Linked DNA regions of Homo sapiens: all the other regions are linked to region 2. The links come from fine-mapping of genetic effects on gene expression. A gene starts in region 2. Each other region holds a variant in brackets. All regions are shown on one strand. Distances are from middle to middle.

Region 1 (2,755 bases), 21 kb after region 2:
TGTAGATGATCCTGATGATAGCTAAAGCATTTTGTAAGTGGGGTGGCCAGAGGCCCACACATCCCCACAGCCTAGAGTAGGGTAAACCTGGGTCTCTCCTTCCCCTCCTTCCTCCCTCTTCTTCCTCCTGCCCTCCTCTTCCTCCTCCCCTCCTCCCCACCTCCTCTTCTTCCTTCTTCTCTCCTCTTCCCTGTCCTCTTCCTCCTCCTCTTTCCTCTTCGTACCCTCCTCCTGCTCTCCCTTCTCTCTCCTCTTCTTCCTCCCTCCTCCCTCCTCTTCCTCCTCCCCCTCTTCACTCTTCTCCTCTTCTTCCTCTTCCTCCTTCCTCCTCTTCCCCTGTCCCCAGCAGTCCTTTTTTGCCTGCCTTATGAACGACAAAGGCTAGACCTGGAGGTTATGCCCGTTTGCCCTCTGATTTGTTGAAGGCAGTGTTTCCGTACAGCATGACTGAGGATGCCTGATGGGAAGGACCCGGGGAGGATGGCGTCACCCAGGAACCGTTAGCATCACGGGAGGGTTGGGACTTGATCCAGAAAAACACACAGAATCAGACCCTCCCCAGGCAGCCCCACTGGCTCGGGGCAGCTCCAAGGATGGGCTGGAGGTGGGGAGGAGTAACTGCTTGCCCAGGAAGGCTCCACACCCACCTGCCACAGAACCCTGGGTCTGTTTTATGGCTCTGTGTGTTGAGCAGGAGGAGATCATTCTGTGTAGGCCTTGGCCCCCAGGGAGTAGATTCCCATCTGCTCTTCAGACCAGGAACTTCTGGGAAAAGGGGAAGAGGAAAAGGGAGACAAAATGTGGCATGCCCTGAGCTTCCCCAAGGCGAGGGCTTCCTACTCCCAGGTGACGTGGGGAGCAGAATCGGGAGCTGGGGCAGGCTTCTCTCTGTTGCAGGGGAATGTGGCTGCTGTCTGCCGGCTCCTCAAGCTCCCTTCGCCTCTGACTTCCTGTCTCCTCCAATGCAAAGATGGTTGGGGTTTTGTTGTCAGATTTTTTCCCTCCCACTACAAATCTCTCTCCACATTCTCTGAATATTTTAGCTCTTTCAAGTCGGGTGCCAGGGGACAAAACCACACCAGAGGTCTCCAGGCCTCTCTTGAGTTTCAAAGAATCACTCCCCTCCCCACCACCACCACCCCTCCCTCACCCTGGTCCGGCTGTTTTCTGATCCTTTCTTTCCACATTTCTCTGAGTGAATTGAAGCTCCATCTTTCCCTGCGCTTCTGGAGTTCAGCACGAGACTCTCTTACAGAGCAGGGTCCAGGTTGCAACAGGCAGGGGTGACAAATGTCAGCAGCAGGCACTGCCCACCCTGCCTGCAGAGGAGCAGCTAAGCAAAGCTCAGACCAGTGCTCTTGTAACCAGGAGTGCAGCCACCTAGGGAGTTCCCCAGCTGGTTCGCATCCAAGCCTGTGAGGCCGGGGGTTACCTGAAAGACCTCATGCCTGGTCTTCAGTTGGTTTAACCACCCTGCCCAGAATCAAAGTAAAAGCCGTGTGTCTCCAGCCCACTCCACTGCCCTTTACCTACCCAGGGGCACCCCTGCGTTGTGGTGCTTTCCTTTCCACCGAAGTGTCC[T/C]CAAGAACATCACAAGTGCAGAACTCCATCCGGAGTCTAGAAGTGTCTGGCTGCTCTGATCTGACACATGGGAGAGCTTAAACCTTGTGTCATCTGACAGCTGCACCGGAAGTGGCACCTGAGCAGCCCCAGGGAGGGATGTATCTGGGGTTTCGGTGGCCAGCTTTAGGGGCACCAGGGGCCCTGGGCTCCTCTGCTAACGGAGCAGCCAGAAAACTTCACTGGGCTGGCACCCTGGCTGTCCAGGGGAACCGCCCTGGAGGAATCTTGCTCTTGTCCTTCCTGCCCAGTCTTCTGCCTCTTGTCCCCTCATCCTGCTGTCTCGAGACTGGAAGGGGCACTCGGAGGTGGGCCCTCACTCGTTGATAGGCACGGAAGTGGGTGAACTGGCTAGAGGCTCCCCATGTGCATGGTACCTACTGGCAGGGCATAGAATGGGATGACTTTGGAGAAGTAACTTGCTGAGCCTCAGACTCTTTCATCTGTAAAATGGAGAAAACACTCCTAACTAGAACATAGGAACAAGGCCATAATTCTCTAACCCGGGCCTGTCACATAGCGAGAGCCCCATAAGTGGTAACAGGTATGAGTGTACACACCGTGCCATGGTACTGGTGCACGCCTGCAGAAATGGGCCCTCCTATCTCCCCGAGAGATGACAAAAGCAATGCCGGCCAGCAGCAAGTCCCCCTGCACAGTACTACTCAGCCAGCTTAGGAAGAAACCCAGCACATCCACTGGCTAGGCCGACCCCACATCTGTGTGTGAGGAAGTAAGGGTCACAGCAGAGCTGGCCACCTGCCCCAGGTCTGCCAAAGAGAGGCTCACAGCCCCAGGAGGCCAGCAGGGACCTGCCACACATAGGGAGCTTTGGGAGCACTCCGGGAGGTGTCCACAAGGGATGTCTCGATTCCCCTGATGACTGGGAGGTGATGCAGGAGCAGGTGGCCAGCTCTGCCCTGGGCAGGGGACCAGGTACCCTTTGCCACACCACGTTCAAGGCATTTGAAGGCCACTTTTGTATTTCCTAGAGCTGGGCTTGAGAGGCTGGAGACCTGGGACGGGGTCTGATTTCAGACAGAGAAGAGACAGAGGCTGCTGTGGAGAGCTCACTCTTGAATATCTCCCACAAGGGAGGGCTGGAGGGGCACGGGATAAACCCCTCTGGGTGGGA
Region 2 (2,755 bases):
TGGAGGAAACTAGAGCTGTTTTTCCTTAACCATCTTGCCTCTCACTGAGATGAAACAGCAGGATGGTTCCTGGGACCCAGGATCCCTTTGAACGCTTGGATTAAAATAATTTATGAGTTCTTTGTGAGTGTGTGTGGACCTGCTGGTAGTGGCTTTTCTTCATTAGAATTTGCATGCAAGATTGACACTAAGATGGCTGACTTTCACCATCCCAAACCAACCCTGTTTTTGCACCGTGCTGTAGTGGTATGAATTACCTTGCAGGTAATTGTGGCTTAGGTGATGGTACACAAAAGGCATCATACAGCAGCCAGATGTTCATTTTACTAAATGGAAAATATGACTCAGAACACGGGCCAATCTGAGCCTCCAAGCAGGCAAATTAGCCATTGAGGATGAAGTCTTCACCTCTGGAGAGGAGAGAATGTGGGAGCACAGAGCCCAGAGTCAAATGATTTGGTTGAGATCCCCCCACTTTGGTTATTTAGACTTGCTTATACTCCTCTGACCAGACTATGGGATCTTCTACAGAAATTCTACAGAAGTGTGGGCAGAATTACAAGTAAGGTGGGTTGAGGAAGTGCACAGGTGGAAGTGTAGCCGAGAGGATGCGTTTGAGGAGCAAGAGGCTGGGACTCAAGAAGGCTTTATGCAGACTCGAATCTTACATTGATAACAAGCATTTGCGTAGCACATACGAGTTTCATCCTATGAAGGATTCCATAGGATTCTCACAGCAGCCCAAGGATGTGAGCAGAGCAGTAAACAATATCCCTGTTTTATAGAGGAAGTAGAAATCGAGAAGCAGGAAGGTTGGGTAATTTGCCCAAAGTTCCACCACTAGTAAATCGCAGAACTGGGACTAAAGCCCAGGTCTTCTGACCCTCACTGGGCCCAGCGTTCTTTCCAATATGTCATCCTGCCATTTTCCCCTTCCTTCCTCCTCCCCACAGCTCCTTGCAAGTTCAGCCTGCTGGAGGTAAGGGAAGTGATCATGAGAGTTTTTCCAGTGCTGAGACGTTCTGGAAAAAACATGGACCTGTATCTGTGTCCTGATCTGTGCTTCGTGATTGGACTGTCTTGACACTCGTCTCAGGACTCTGGGGAGTGCTTGTGCAAGTGTTTCCCAGTGTGGCCGGCTTCTTGAACGCTGCTAATGGAAAGTTGTAAGAGTTCTATTTTCCTGTTTCAAGCGAGCGTTTCCCCCTTGGGGTTATAGCAACCACTTCCTCCTCAGCACCCGGTGGGTCGTGGTAAACACCAGTTACAGCAGAGTATCCCCTTCTGACAACCTCATTGGTTCCTTTTTTTTTTTTTTTTTTTTTTTTTGCCTGTAAGCACATACACACAGAGTTCTGAAGGCTAGGTCTCCTTTCCTTCTGGTTTAGAGTTTTCAGAGTACCCTGCTGTGGCCTTGGAAACAGAAAACCCACACAGAGGTCAAACGCAGTTCTCGTGGAGTCACCTTGTCATCCTGCTTTGTTTTGGAAGGAACTGGGTCGGAGGCAGCACAGTAGGACTACAGCATCTTTAACCCTTGGTAGGATGGCTGGATCCGCTGAACGCTTGTGGGTAAACAGGAAGCTCACAGCCTCAGTGGATCATTAAGGGTGATACAGAATAGACACGAAAATCTTAAGTGGGATGGGAGCAGAGCAGGACTTGGTGGGTAGATAGTGAGGAAAAGGAGGCAAATAGGGATGGTGAAGAAATCGAAAGGGAATGGGGGATACAAGGAAAGGGTCAGGAAAGGGTGAGTAAAAGGTTTAAAGAGAGGTGCTAATTTTAGATACTTAAAAGTATTTTAAGTATCTAAAACTTGTGGCTGGGTGTGGTGGCTCACTCCTTTAATCCCAGCACTTTGGGAGGCCAAGGCGGGCAGATCACCTGAGGTCAGAAGTTCGAGACCAGCCTGGCCAACATAGTGAAACCCCGTCTCTAACTAAAAATACAAAAATTAGGCCAGGCACAGTGGCTCACGCCTGTAATTCCAGCACTATGGGAGGCTGAGGTGGGTGGATCACGAGGTCAGGAGTTCAAAACTAGCCTGGCCAAGATGGTGAAACCCCATCTCTACTAAAACTACAAAAATCAGCCAAGTGTGGTGGCAGGTGCCTGTAATCCCAGCTACTCGGAGGCTGAGGCAGGAGATTGGTTTGAACCTGGGAGTTGGAGGTTGCAGTGAGCCGAGATGGTGCCACTGCCCTCCAGCCTGGGCAACAGTGAGACTCTGTCTCAAAAAAAAATGTGTATATATAAATACTTAAAAAATATTTGTAATTGCTGGTTTGGGGTTACTAGAATCTCTTCTGAATCTGTCTCAGTTTTTCTTACAGCTTTTAAAATCCATGGAACTCTATCACCAGGAGATGATTGTGGTATGGAGCTGATCACCCCGGAGTTAGTGGGGTGGCAACTGAGATCGGGGGGAAATGGAGCAGTTTGAGGATATATGGGCCGTGAAAACCTCCCAGCTCTGCCCCCAGCCATGCCATGAAAGTCATGGGGAAGAAAGGCCCCCATTTGTGTGTTTGTGTTATTAAATAGAACAGTAACAGAGCAGGTCTCTGAGCCTGCCTGGCAGAAATCTTTCTGTAGCAGGAGTGTCCTGCAACTCTCTGGTGGATTTGCAAAACAGTACAGATAGAAAAACTTAAATGGGAAACAAGCTTGTCTTGTCCTACTTTGTGGAGATAGATAATAAAGCCGAAAGGCCAAGAAGTGTAAATATATAGCATATATCTAATGTATATGG
Region 3 (2,755 bases), 41 kb after region 2:
CTGAGCCCTTTCTGTGCCCCCGGCCTTCCTCTGGCCCCACTGAGGTGATGCAGGGGTATGTGTGGCCATATTTGGGAAAGCGCCTCGCTCCCATGCAGAGGCTCTGAGCTCACCCAGGAGGGGCAGGCTCTTTGGTGCCCACTATCCCTGGGCCAGGCTGGGAAGGCCCTATAGGGTCTGCCCACGCTGAATCTGCAGGGGTTGTGCTGCTGGGGTGGGGGTGCTGTGTGCATTTGAAACAGGTTCTTCACCACCCCCGCCCCGGGATAGTTTGGACGCTCCTGGGCACCTTCCCCTTCACTGTGGTTCCCTGCAGAGTGTTTGGGAGGAGTCAGGTTCTAGGAGGCGGAAGGGCGAGGCCCCAGATTGGGTTGTGGTCTAGAAAGAGTGGAAAGTTTGCCCAGGTGCAGTGTGATTCATGCCCGTAATCTCAGCACTTTCCGAGGCCAAGGCAGGAGAATGGCTTGAGCTTAGGAGTTTGGGACCAGCCTGGGTAACATAGTGAAACCCTGTCTCTACAAAAATAAAAAACAAAAAGTTAGCCGGGCATCGTGGTGCATGCCTGTAGTCCCAACTACTCGGGAGGCTGTGGTGGGAGGATCGCTTGAGCCTAGGAGATCAAGGCTACAGTAAGCTGAGGTTGCACCACTGCACTCCAGCTGGGGCGACAGAGTAAGACCCTGTCTGGAAGGAAGGAAGGAAGGGAAGAAAGGAAGGAAAAGAAGGAAGGCAGGAAGGAAGGAAAGAAAGAGGGAGGGAAGGAGTGGAAAGTGTGCAGGCCAGAGTCAGGGGGTGAAGGGGTGCCTGCTGCTGCCCACACAGAAGGGTGGTCGCCGACCCTGGAACCCGATGCCCTCTGCCCAGGCATGGCCATTCTTGGGCCGGCTCTGCTGCCTGTCTGAAAATGGGGATTGGAATTGCAGGCACCCAACTGTCCGGCCTGAGCGAGCCTCCCCACCTGGTCACCCAGGCCCCGGGCCGCAGTGGGGAGGGCGAGGCCCGGGCTTCAGCTCACCCTTCACCCCCATGTTCTCCTCAGGTCATTGGCAGCTCCCTCCTCTTCATCCACGACAAGAAGGAACAGGCCAAAGTGTGGATGATCGACTTTGGGAAAACCACGCCCCTGCCTGAGGGCCAGACCCTGCAGCATGACGTCCCCTGGCAGGAGGGGAACCGGGAGGATGGCTACCTCTCGGGGCTCAATAACCTCGTCGACATCCTGACCGAGATGTCCCAGGATGCCCCACTCGCCTGAGCTGCCCACGCCCTCCCTGGCCCCCGCCTGGGCCTCCTTTCCTCCTCCTGTGCTTCCTTTCTCGTTCCTAACTTTTCCTTCACTTACACCTGACTGACCCTCCTGAACTGCACTACAAGACACTTTGTAGAAGAGGAGATGAGAGTTTCTAGTCATTTTCCTAACTTCAGGGCTTGGAGGTGGTGTTTGCACTGCTTTTTGTAGAGAGGGTCACCTACTAGAAGAGAAATGCCCAGTCTTAGAGGTGGGTCAGGTGTAGAGCTGGAGGGGGTCCCTGGCTGCTGAGGGGACCCTACCAGATGAGCCCTGCCT[C/G]TGGGAGCCCCCTAGGAAGCACCAGCCTGGACCTACCACCTGCGGAGGCCTGCTGCCCCCTGGCGGCCAGTGCTGTTAGAGTGCTGCCAAGCACAGCCTTATTTCTGCCGGGGCCTCCCCACCGGAGAGCCCAGGGGGCCGGCCGGGTTCCTGGTCCCTGGCTGGGAGCAGGGCTTTCTGGTAGTTGGGGCACAAAACCATCGGGGAACCACATGTTGACTGTGAGCAAAGTGTCTTCCGATTAGCAGCCTCAGGGATGCCCTGGTGGCCTCTCCAGGGCTGCTCAGGCAAGGCCCCCCACCCATCTGGTATGGAAACCTGCCGGCTCCAGGCCAGACCCAGGAGCCAAGAGAAGGCTGAAGCCAGCTTGGCTGTGTTCTCTGATCTAGGCCTTCCCAGAGGAGGCGAGCAGAAGCTGTGCCACTTGGAATTGCAACCCATGAGTTCAGAAGGCACACTCTGCCATGCTGAGCTCCAAGGGTGCTACCAGGGGAAGATGGGATCTATAGAGTCTCTGGGCCCTGGCCCCAGGGAGGAGCACATTTTTCTTGACCCTCACCTACCTGGTGCTAGTTGGTCAACCCTGCCTGCATACATGGGCTCCTGTCATGGGGCCCAGAGTCCCTTGCAGATATAGAAATAGGGGAGGAGCTCAGGTCTGCGCCAGGCAGGAAGAAGGCAGGCTTCTGGCTTCCAGAGGTGCCGCGGTGGCCTCCTGGCATCATTTGTTATTGCCTCTGAAACAAGCCTTACTGCCTGGAGGGCTTAGATTCCTGCTTCTCCAATGTAGTGTGGGTATCTTGTAGGGTATGTGGTGGATGCCAGGGCGTGCTCCAGGCACCTCTTCCTGAAGTCTCTGCATTTGGAGATTCGTGGAGAACCTATTTAAGCCCAATTTTAACTGAAAGCCAGTGAGTCTGATATGGAAGGGAATGTAAAATTTGCCTGACTTCTTAAGAACAAAACCCCCAGCTCTGTGCCCCATGCTCCTTGGGGCTTGCCACCCACTCCTTTGCTGTCAGAGGTACAGGAGCTGGGAGAGTCCAGGAGCTAGGGACACAGAGGGAGACTATGGACCAAGGTGTGTGTGTCTGGAGGAACCACTGCCCACCCCACCACCCCGGGGTCTCTGGGGAACTGTCAACCTGCCCACGGGACATGTACATTTCCCCTTTTGTGCTGGAAGTG

The links.
Region 1: its variant is fine-mapped to the expression of ITPKB-IT1 in whole blood (TOPMed, PIP above 0.99).
Region 3: its variant is fine-mapped to the expression of ITPKB-IT1 in whole blood (TOPMed, PIP above 0.99).

What each region holds. Positions count from the first base shown.
Region 1 is chr1:226,652,473-226,655,227 of GRCh38, reverse strand. All of the region lies in intron 2 of ITPKB (inositol-trisphosphate 3-kinase B), which reads left to right. Among named protein-coding and RNA genes, the nearest start is that of ITPKB-IT1, 21 kb to the left of the region's middle. RefSeq lists enhancers at 864-1,455, 1,451-1,640. The variant T/C (reference allele first, on the strand shown) is at 1,582.
Region 2 is chr1:226,673,702-226,676,456 of GRCh38, reverse strand. ITPKB-IT1 (ITPKB intronic transcript 1) reads left to right here and starts at 1,389. Exons shown (of 2, transcript NR_103784.1): 1 at 1,389-1,540. All of the region lies in intron 2 of ITPKB (inositol-trisphosphate 3-kinase B), which reads left to right. RefSeq lists a silencer at 258-407.
Region 3 is chr1:226,633,171-226,635,925 of GRCh38, reverse strand. ITPKB (inositol-trisphosphate 3-kinase B) reads left to right here. Exons shown (of 8, transcript NM_002221.4): 8 at 1,040-2,755. The coding sequence ends at 1,255. Among named protein-coding and RNA genes, the nearest start is that of ITPKB-IT1, 41 kb to the left of the region's middle. RefSeq lists an enhancer at 1-762. The variant C/G (reference allele first, on the strand shown) is at 1,568.